Linked DNA regions of Homo sapiens. The protein of the gene in region 1 interacts with the protein of each later gene in a pairwise test. Each region holds a gene or a part of one and is shown in the gene's direction. Other genes may lie near its edges. The genes, in order: PCCA and TMEM132D.

The links.
Region 2: the proteins of PCCA (region 1) and TMEM132D interact in a two-hybrid assay, tested with the Homo sapiens proteins (one large-scale study listed by BioGRID).

The regions. Positions count from the first base shown.
Region 1 is NC_000013.11:100,087,438-100,091,922, forward strand, and holds the start of PCCA (propionyl-CoA carboxylase alpha chain, mitochondrial isoform a precursor), read left to right. Parts: upstream 1-1,655; 5' UTR 1,656-1,683; coding exon 1,684-1,788; exon of another isoform or gene 1,789-2,822; coding exon of another isoform or gene 2,823-2,828; intron 2,829-4,485. UniProt on the Homo sapiens protein: This is one of the 2 subunits of the biotin-dependent propionyl-CoA carboxylase (PCC), a mitochondrial enzyme involved in the catabolism of odd chain fatty acids, branched-chain amino acids isoleucine, threonine, methionine, and valine and other metabolites.
Region 2 is NC_000012.12:129,697,944-129,701,754, reverse strand, and holds part of TMEM132D (transmembrane protein 132D precursor), read left to right. Parts: intron 1-1,056; coding exon 1,057-1,945; intron 1,946-3,811. UniProt on the Homo sapiens protein: Regulate neuronals morphology via inhibition of the WAVE regulatory complex (WCR), a complex that controls F-actin cytoskeletal dynamics.

The DNA.
Region 1 (4,485 bases):
AACTAATCCAAAGGGTAAAACATGGGGAAAAGACAAAAAACAAAAGAAAAAAGAAAAGCAAGTTTCCCAGGTAGAAAATGAATGAAGACTGAGGTACATAAGTGAGAAGTCCTGTAAAATTGATAATCCTTTTCATTTTGTCACAAAAGTCCCTACTTACATTCTAAAATTCCATTAAATGTCACCTTTCTGATATCCCCATTTTATTTCTCTCTCTTTGGGCATTTACCATGCTGTAGTGTACTCTAGGCCATTCCTAGCTTTGTAACTCTCTCAAGGTGACTCTGCAGGAGATGCAAAGTAGTTAAGAGGAGAACCCCCAATACTGATGTGTTTATAGGTGAGGTGGTCTGATGTCTTAGATTTGCTTTAAAATATTCCTGCACAAAATAAAAAGGGGAATAGATGAAACAAGATTGACAAAATGTTGATTCATTGACGCGGTGTAATGGGTATCTGGGTGATCATAGTACAATTTTATCTCTTTTGTATATATTTTAAAATTTCCATAATATAGCAAAACATGAGCCCAGTCCCTCAAGGCAGCCAGATTTGGGTTCAAACCCTAGTTTGACCTTTTACTCGCTGAGTGACTTTACCCTGCTACAGCTTCAGTTTCTCCAAATGGAAATAATATATACTCCATTAAGGTTCTTGTAAACTCTCAAGTAAGAGGGAATCTGAGGCTCTAGCACACGGCCCGGCCCTTAATAGTTGTACTAATTTTTATTTTATTTTTCGAAACGGAGTTTGCTCTGTCACCCAGGCTGGAGTGTAGTGGCATGATCCGGCTCACTGCAACCTCCACCTCCAGGGTTCAAGCAATTCTCCTGCCTCAGCCTCCTCCCGAGTAACTGGGATTACAGGAGTGCGCCACCACGCCCAGCTAATTTTTGTATTTTTTAGTAGAGACGGGGTTTCGGCATGTTGTCCAGGCTGGTCTCCAACTCCTGACCTCAGGTTATCCTCCCGCCTCGGCCTCCCAGAGTGCTGGGATTACAGGCGTGAGCCACTGCGCCTGGCCAGTAGTTGTACTAACAAGGGTTTCTGCTTGCGAGCAACAAAGACTGACTCTAGTTGTGGCTAATTTCTTTCACACACACATATTAAGTGCCAGAGGTAGGACTTGAGCTCGGATCTCTGATTTCCAGACCTAGAACTTTTTATGTGTTATTACAGTCGTTAAAAACCTTACCTGGATTTGTGCTTTGCAATTTACGCTTTCGAACATGCAGGAATGTAGTTTGGGCATTTGTCTGGAACTTCGGATTCTCGGGACTCCAGGGTGGCCAAGGCGCGGAGGTGACTCAATGACATTGACCGGCCTGGATGCACGTGGGTTGCTGAGCCGATGCTGGGAAGGTACGGGGTTTGCCCGGTGCAGGCCGCCGGAACTCACGCACGCCCCTGTCTCTCTCACTCCTGGGGTCGGCTCTGGCCGGTGGCCTCCAGCTCAGCTAGCGGCCGGACGCGCAGCCCGCCGACTAGCCCTCCAGGTCCTAGCGCGACTCCCGGATCCCGGATCCGGCGGATCTGGCCGACCACTCACCCTCCCCTTTCCGCAAGTTAGGGGGCGGGGCATCGGGTTTCTGGCTCGTGATTTGCCGGAGCTCCTGCGCTCCCCTTCTCCACCCCCTCCGGCTGTGTGAGAGGTCAGCAGAGGGGCGGTCTGCGGGGACAACAATGGCGGGGTTCTGGGTCGGGACAGCACCGCTGGTCGCTGCCGGACGGCGTGGGCGGTGGCCGCCGCAGCAGCTGATGCTGAGCGCGGCGCTGCGGACCCTGAAGGTGAGGAGCAACGGGGCCTCGCGGGTCCGGGCTTCACTGGGCTTCTAGCCGTGCCGCCTCTGGGCGGCTGGCGCCGGGAGAGCGCTGGCTGGGTCCGGCTGCCCCCGCGCCCCGGTTCCGCATCAGCTACACCGCTTGCTTTCCTCCCTCCCGGAGTTCGCGTGGCAGCGGGCTCAGGAGGCATCCCTCGTTGCAGCTGTTCCTCGCGGGGATCCTGCGGAGCAGAGAGGCCTAGGGCAGAGGCAGTTGGGTGCCCGCACGCCCTCCGAGGCGGCTGATGGCTTTGGGCAGGCATATTGCTCGAGGTCTGCTTCCAGGGCCCCGCGGCATTGGCTTTGTCTTAAGCTTTCCAGGGTGTCTTTTTAGGTGTCCTTATAGTTTCCGTGTTCTGTTGCCTCTTTCCAGCATTTTTGAAGGGACACTGTGAACTGTTGCTTAAGTAGTGTTAGGGTTGTGAGTTTGTCTTATCTTTTAAAGTATTATACCATGTCAGGACTGCCAATAGATTTTACGTTTCATTTGAAAGCCTGTTTTAATTGTATGACACCCCAGTCTACTGTGTACCAAATGCATCCCGTGAACTTACTTTCCTTTTCGGTATAGTGGTGAGCCTGATTTTGGCACTGTTCTAAACACATTTCATGACTGTTCTGTATACCTAGGCTGTCATGATGGCAGATTGACAAACAGGTTGGAGTGCTTGTGTGTGCTTCTGAGCTCTGTCTCCAGTCAATGTCGAGTCTGTCGTTAATTCTGGGGCACAGACCACCTAACCTACTTTATAAGGTTTGTTGAGGCACTTGAACACATTCTTTAAAATGAAGGTCCCCTGAAAACCATCTGTCAGCTGGTTCAGTGTGCTTGTTAAACTTCCTTTTAAAAAATAATTATTAAAACATTGCCACATAACTTGATTTATAGTCATTTAATTTTAGACGTTGAAGACACTTTAGAGACGACCTGCCCCATCCTACTCTTTAAAGAGGAGGGAACCGAGCCCCAGGTGGGCAGTATGAGAGCTGGAGCTTATCGACATGGAAGTGAGTGGCACCTATGTTTGTTTTGTGTCCAATTCAGCGTGCGGACTTTCACTGTTTTCTGTGTTCCCATACAGTTTAGTGTTCTTTAATCTTTATCATTCTGTTCATCTGTGTTGGCCACTTCAATTGCAGCTGTAAGACTTATGCATTTACATAGGAGGCAAGTTAGTATGGTGTAAAGTGTGGGCTTTGGGGTCAGGCGCATGAGGCTTTGTATATTGGACAGGTCTCTTCCTTGGGCGTCAGCTTCGTCCTTGTAGCTATTTTTTTCAACAAATATTTACTGAATATCTCCTGTCTTCCACTTCTGGGGAATGAATATGGTTTCTGCTTTCTTAGAAATTTTACTCTAGTAGGGAGACTGTAACAAGTGTAAAATGGTATTAGGGGAGATGCCCGGGTGCTATAAGAAAATAAAATAGAGGGATTTGACCAAGCCAAGATTTTGAATTCTGTGTTCTAGATACTGTTCTGTTGCTTTGCTTGAACTAATTTATTCAATCTCACAACAGTCGTATGTCCCCCATTTACAGAAGATGAAAGTGAGGCACTGAGTGTTAATGTGACTTGCTCGAAGCTATAGTGCCAATAAGTGGCAAACAGGATTTAGAACTCCAGAACCTGTGCTCTTAATCATACTATGCTATCTACGGTAAGGGAGTGTTTTCCTTTGGAACTGAAAATTGAGACAAGTTTTGAAGGATGAAGTGACCTTTTCTAACAAACAGAGATGAATGTTATAGGTGAGAGAGCAGTGTATGCAAAGGTCCTGTGGCCAGAGGGAATGACAGGTTAGAAGAACTGAAAAAAGCCTACAGAGGCTCTGATGCAGAGAGTAGATGGTGTTGGGGAAGCTGGCAGGAGTCAGACCATCTGGCTCTTATAGATCACATTATGAGGTTTGGTGTTTGTCTTAGAGCAGTGGGAAGACATTGATGTTGGAGGTGGGAGGGATGACACTGACATTTTAGATTGGAGAGGCTGAGAGGAAGGCTGTTACTGTACTTACTGTTGTACACTTGTTATACACTTACTGTGTAATACATACGCTTTGATGATTCTTACCTGGTTTTTTCCTTTTAATGTGTTGGCAGAGACTGCATCTTGTCTATTTCTGTGTTCTTAGTACAATGTTTGACACAATAGGTGCTGAATGTGTAACAATAGAGTAGCATTATGTTTGTGCCGGTAAAGAATTCCTCCTTGGGGTGGGAAGCATCTCTGAAGTTCACTATCACTCTAGGGGAACTTGAGCTGCTGCTTAGCTTCTCTCTGCGCTTCTCTTCTATGAACTTGAAATATGCTCTACTGAGTCTGTTTGAAGCTGAATCTTTTGAAGATTTTAACCCCTCCCATCCCTCCCTCCACCTCTGCAAACCTTTTGGTTGGTTGAAAAGCAGCCAGCTAACTCTAGGGTCTAGTCTAGAGAATTCTGACCATTCTTTTAGCCAGTCAACAGAGTTTATTTATTTTTAGGGTATATGTAGAGTTCACCTTTTAGTCTTATTTGTTTTGTGTATCAGCTTTTTAAGCACATTCTGTTTTAATGCCTAGTTTTTTCTTCTGCGTAAATGTTTTCAGTGGCTCTAGGATGTTGGTTTTATGGTAATTGCTATAGTTATTATTGAACTCTTATATGCCTTGCATGATTTTTCTT
Region 2 (3,811 bases), on another chromosome or scaffold:
TTTGCCTAGAAAGTCAGTGTTCCCAGCCAATAGTTTACATTTCTAAAACTCCTTAAATTGGTTCTTTGGATTATGCAATTGCTCTGCCTGCATTTTTCTTACAGAATGTAAGGCAACTTGTGAAAATAACATTTTGGATTTTTCTCCCCCTGAGGGAGAGATACGTTCAGTGCGGAAAAATGAACAATGGATTTTGTTCGTTGGTGACGGCGTAGTGTCCACAGGATGTGGCTGGCATGGAAGCGAGGTGCTGCCCTTCCCGTGCTTCTTAGGTTCAGGGTCCAGTGTTTCATAGATGACTTGGAGCATTGCTTTGTACGCCCGGCCCTGACACATTGGTGTCGTGGTCACCTCATCTCATCTATTTCTAGAGGGCCCCTCCCAATATATCCTTCCAAGGTATTTTCTCTGCATCTCTCCCCTTAACTCCAACTGGGGGCGGGTGTCCACTGTCCATGTGATTTATGATTGTGCATCTGCGTCTATTTTTGCCCCAAGTCTGTTAGCATTTCCCATTGGACATGTGCGTATATGCAGAACGTGCATATGAGTGGAACACAAAGGAATATGTATCAGGTGGAATGTGGACGTGGCATCAATCCATGTGTTGAGGAAGTCATTCCTGTTTCCAATCTCAGTCTGTGTTGAGTCAATGGGACGGTGCCTCTCTGTCGATGGTAGCTTGTCTGTGACAGCTTTCTAACACTTGCTAATCTCTCCTTTGATCAAAAAAAGAGCAAGTCTTTACCATAACCCCATAAAAACACCATTATCACGAGTGGAAATTTTAAAACTGTATTTGAATTGTATTTATTTGCATGCTCAACTTTTTTATAGGTTAAATGATACTGGTTTTCTACTTAGGTTGGTGGCATTTATTTCTTCTGAAACAAATAATATGAAGCGAGTAGATTGGATTAAGAGGTTTGGATAAGGAATTGCATAATTGGCGCGAAGACAGGGTCCTCTGTTATGAAGGGGGCACGCAGATGTCTGAAATGCTGGTAACAGGACCTTAGCATTACTAACGCCTGCACTGCGATTCCCTCCCCACAGTGACGGAAGGTCGAGGGATCCTTGAGAGCATCCAGAGGTTTTCCTTGCTGCCCACCTACCTCCCCGTGACCTACCACATCAACAACGCGGACGTCTCCTTCTTCCTGAAGGAGGCCAACCAGGATATCATGAGGAACTCCAGCCTGCAGTCCCGGGTGGAGTCATTTCTGATTTACAAATCCAGGAGGCTGCCTGTCCTCAATGCCAGCTACGGGCCTTTCTCCATCGAGCAAGTGGTGCCCCAGGATTTAATGCTACCTTCCAACCCATTTGGATTCACCAACAAATTTTCTCTTAACTGGAAACTAAAAGCCCACATCCTGCGGGACAAAGTCTACCTGAGCCGGCCCAAAGTGCAGGTTCTGTTCCACATCATGGGCAGAGACTGGGACGACCGCAGCGCCGGGGAGAAGCTGCCGTGCCTGAGGGTCTTTGCTTTCCGAGAGACCCGAGAGGTGCGGGGCAGCTGCCGGCTGCAGGGGGACCTGGGGCTGTGCGTGGCCGAGCTGGAGCTCCTGTCCAGCTGGTTCAGCCCCCCCACGGTGGTTGCCGGGAGGAGGAAGTCCGTGGACCAGCCGGAGGGGACCCCCGTGGAGCTCTACTACACCGTGCACCCAGGGGGTGAGAGAGGGGACTGCGTCAGGGAAGACGCGAGGAGAAGCAATGGGATCCGGACAGGCCACAGTGACATCGATGAGTCCGGGCCCCCCTTGCAGAGGATCGGGAGCATCTTCCTTTATCAGACACACAGGAAACCCTCCCTGAGAGAACTGCGTCTGGACAACAGCGTGGCCATCCACTATATACCAAAGACCGTGAGGAAAGGAGACGTGCTGACTTTTCCTGTTTCCATCTCCAGAAATTCCACTGAAGATCGCTTCACGTTGAGGTAAGTCGTTTCCCAATGTCTGTCTGTACCCGCCCGTCGATCAGGTGGTGTTTTCCAGAAGCTGTTTGACCAGAAAAGCTGTGTTATCGCTCACCGAAGTAGAGCCGGCCTTCCCGTTCTTACAAACTCCATCTGCACCGTGGAATACAGAGACCAGTCTGATCGTTCCGGGTTGGCAATTGGGTTGTGAGAATATTCGTCTTAATAGATTTTCCAAGCCATTGATAGGGCAGCCGGGGGGCTGCTGATGGTACGCCTTTTCCCTTAGCTTAGGGTATTATCAGCAAGTTTTGGGAATGCTAAAATTATCCAAGAAGGCTTTTCAAAATTGGGAGAGTTAAATGCCTCACAGCTGAAATGAGACTGCAAATGAAATGGCAACAGTTGTCAGAAAGGACAGGGAACACGGTTTTGCCAACTCAAAATCTATTCCAGATATGTAAGTTCTAAGTATAATATGGTACCAACCTCAAAGTTACCATTTTGTTTCTCCCTGGAAATAGAACTTAGTGTTCAAAAAAATAAATGAGCATAACGTGTGAAGAATATACAGTAGAATTTGTTGAGTTTCTTATATAAGAATATACCAAAGAGAAGACATTGAAAATAAGCTCTGTGTACTTTAGAATAAATATAGGCTGGTTTTCACTGTGGAATATAACGTATGAGAGAAGCTACTTGCCTAGGCTTGTTTGTATTTTCATTATATAGTTTTAGTTTTATTTTCAACACAGGCAAGTTTGATTACAACAGCTGTTTAGTAGAAGTGTTTTTGGGTTATTAAAAATGTCCTAGCACTGCTACATAACTCAACAATTTGACCTGATGTGCAATGTAATAAAATGTGTGTTATGACTCCTGAAATGAGGAGTGTAACTGTATGTAAGACATGTTTCATATGTGGGCTTATAAACTTCATCCAATGATGACCAGCTCTCTATCCCCCTTCATATGGGATTTATGGCTGCTTTTTCTAGCTTTTCTTTTCTTCTTTTCTTTTTTCTATTCTTTTCTTTCTCCCTCTCTTTCTCCCTCTCTCTTTCTCCCTCCCCTCTCCTCTTCCCCCTCCCCTCCCTTCTCCCCTCTCCCCTCCCCTTTCCTCCCCTTTCTCCTCCCCCTCCCCTCCCCATCTCCTCCCCCTCCCCTCCCCTCCCCCTCCCCCTCCCCTCCCCTCTCCCCTCCCCTCCATGCCGTCTCCCCTCCCCTCCCTCCCCTCCCCCCTCCCCTCTCCCCTCCCTTCTCCCCTCCCTTCTCCCCTCCCCTCCCCTCCCTTCCCCTCTCCCCTCCCCTTTTTTCCTTTATGTTTAAAGGGTGGATGAGTTTAAGAAAATAAATCACCGTTTTGATTCTACCTTGCACATTTAAGTTTATTTGATTGTGACCTAGTATTAGAAATGCCTATTTTAACTAAAGAAACAGAACCTAATGGACATGCATCTAATGACTGAACTTGGCTAAGTCCTGGAAGGTAAAAACCTTTGGCCTGGCTGGACGTGCCATTCGCGGAATAGCCGCAGGGATTTAGGGTACAGGAACACATCTGCGCTGGCCAAGCCTTCATTAGCGTTCCCTTCCGTCCTTCTGGAAATCGGATCTAGATCCAGCTGGCCACAGGTCCTCAATGAGGTCTGCTAGCTTTGTGTTTTACTTTTCTGGGTTCAACAGTCTTACATAGTATTCTTTGTGAGGATGGCTGCTTACGTAGAGAAATATTTTGGTGGTGGAAACAAAAAGTTTGAATAGGGGAGCTTTGATCTTACACCGTTTCATACCGTCTGCCATTTTTTAGGTCCGCCAACGACTGACTTGATTTTCTGAACGCAGGATTAAACACTGCAATCCCCTGAAGCTTTGACTCTCAGGAGA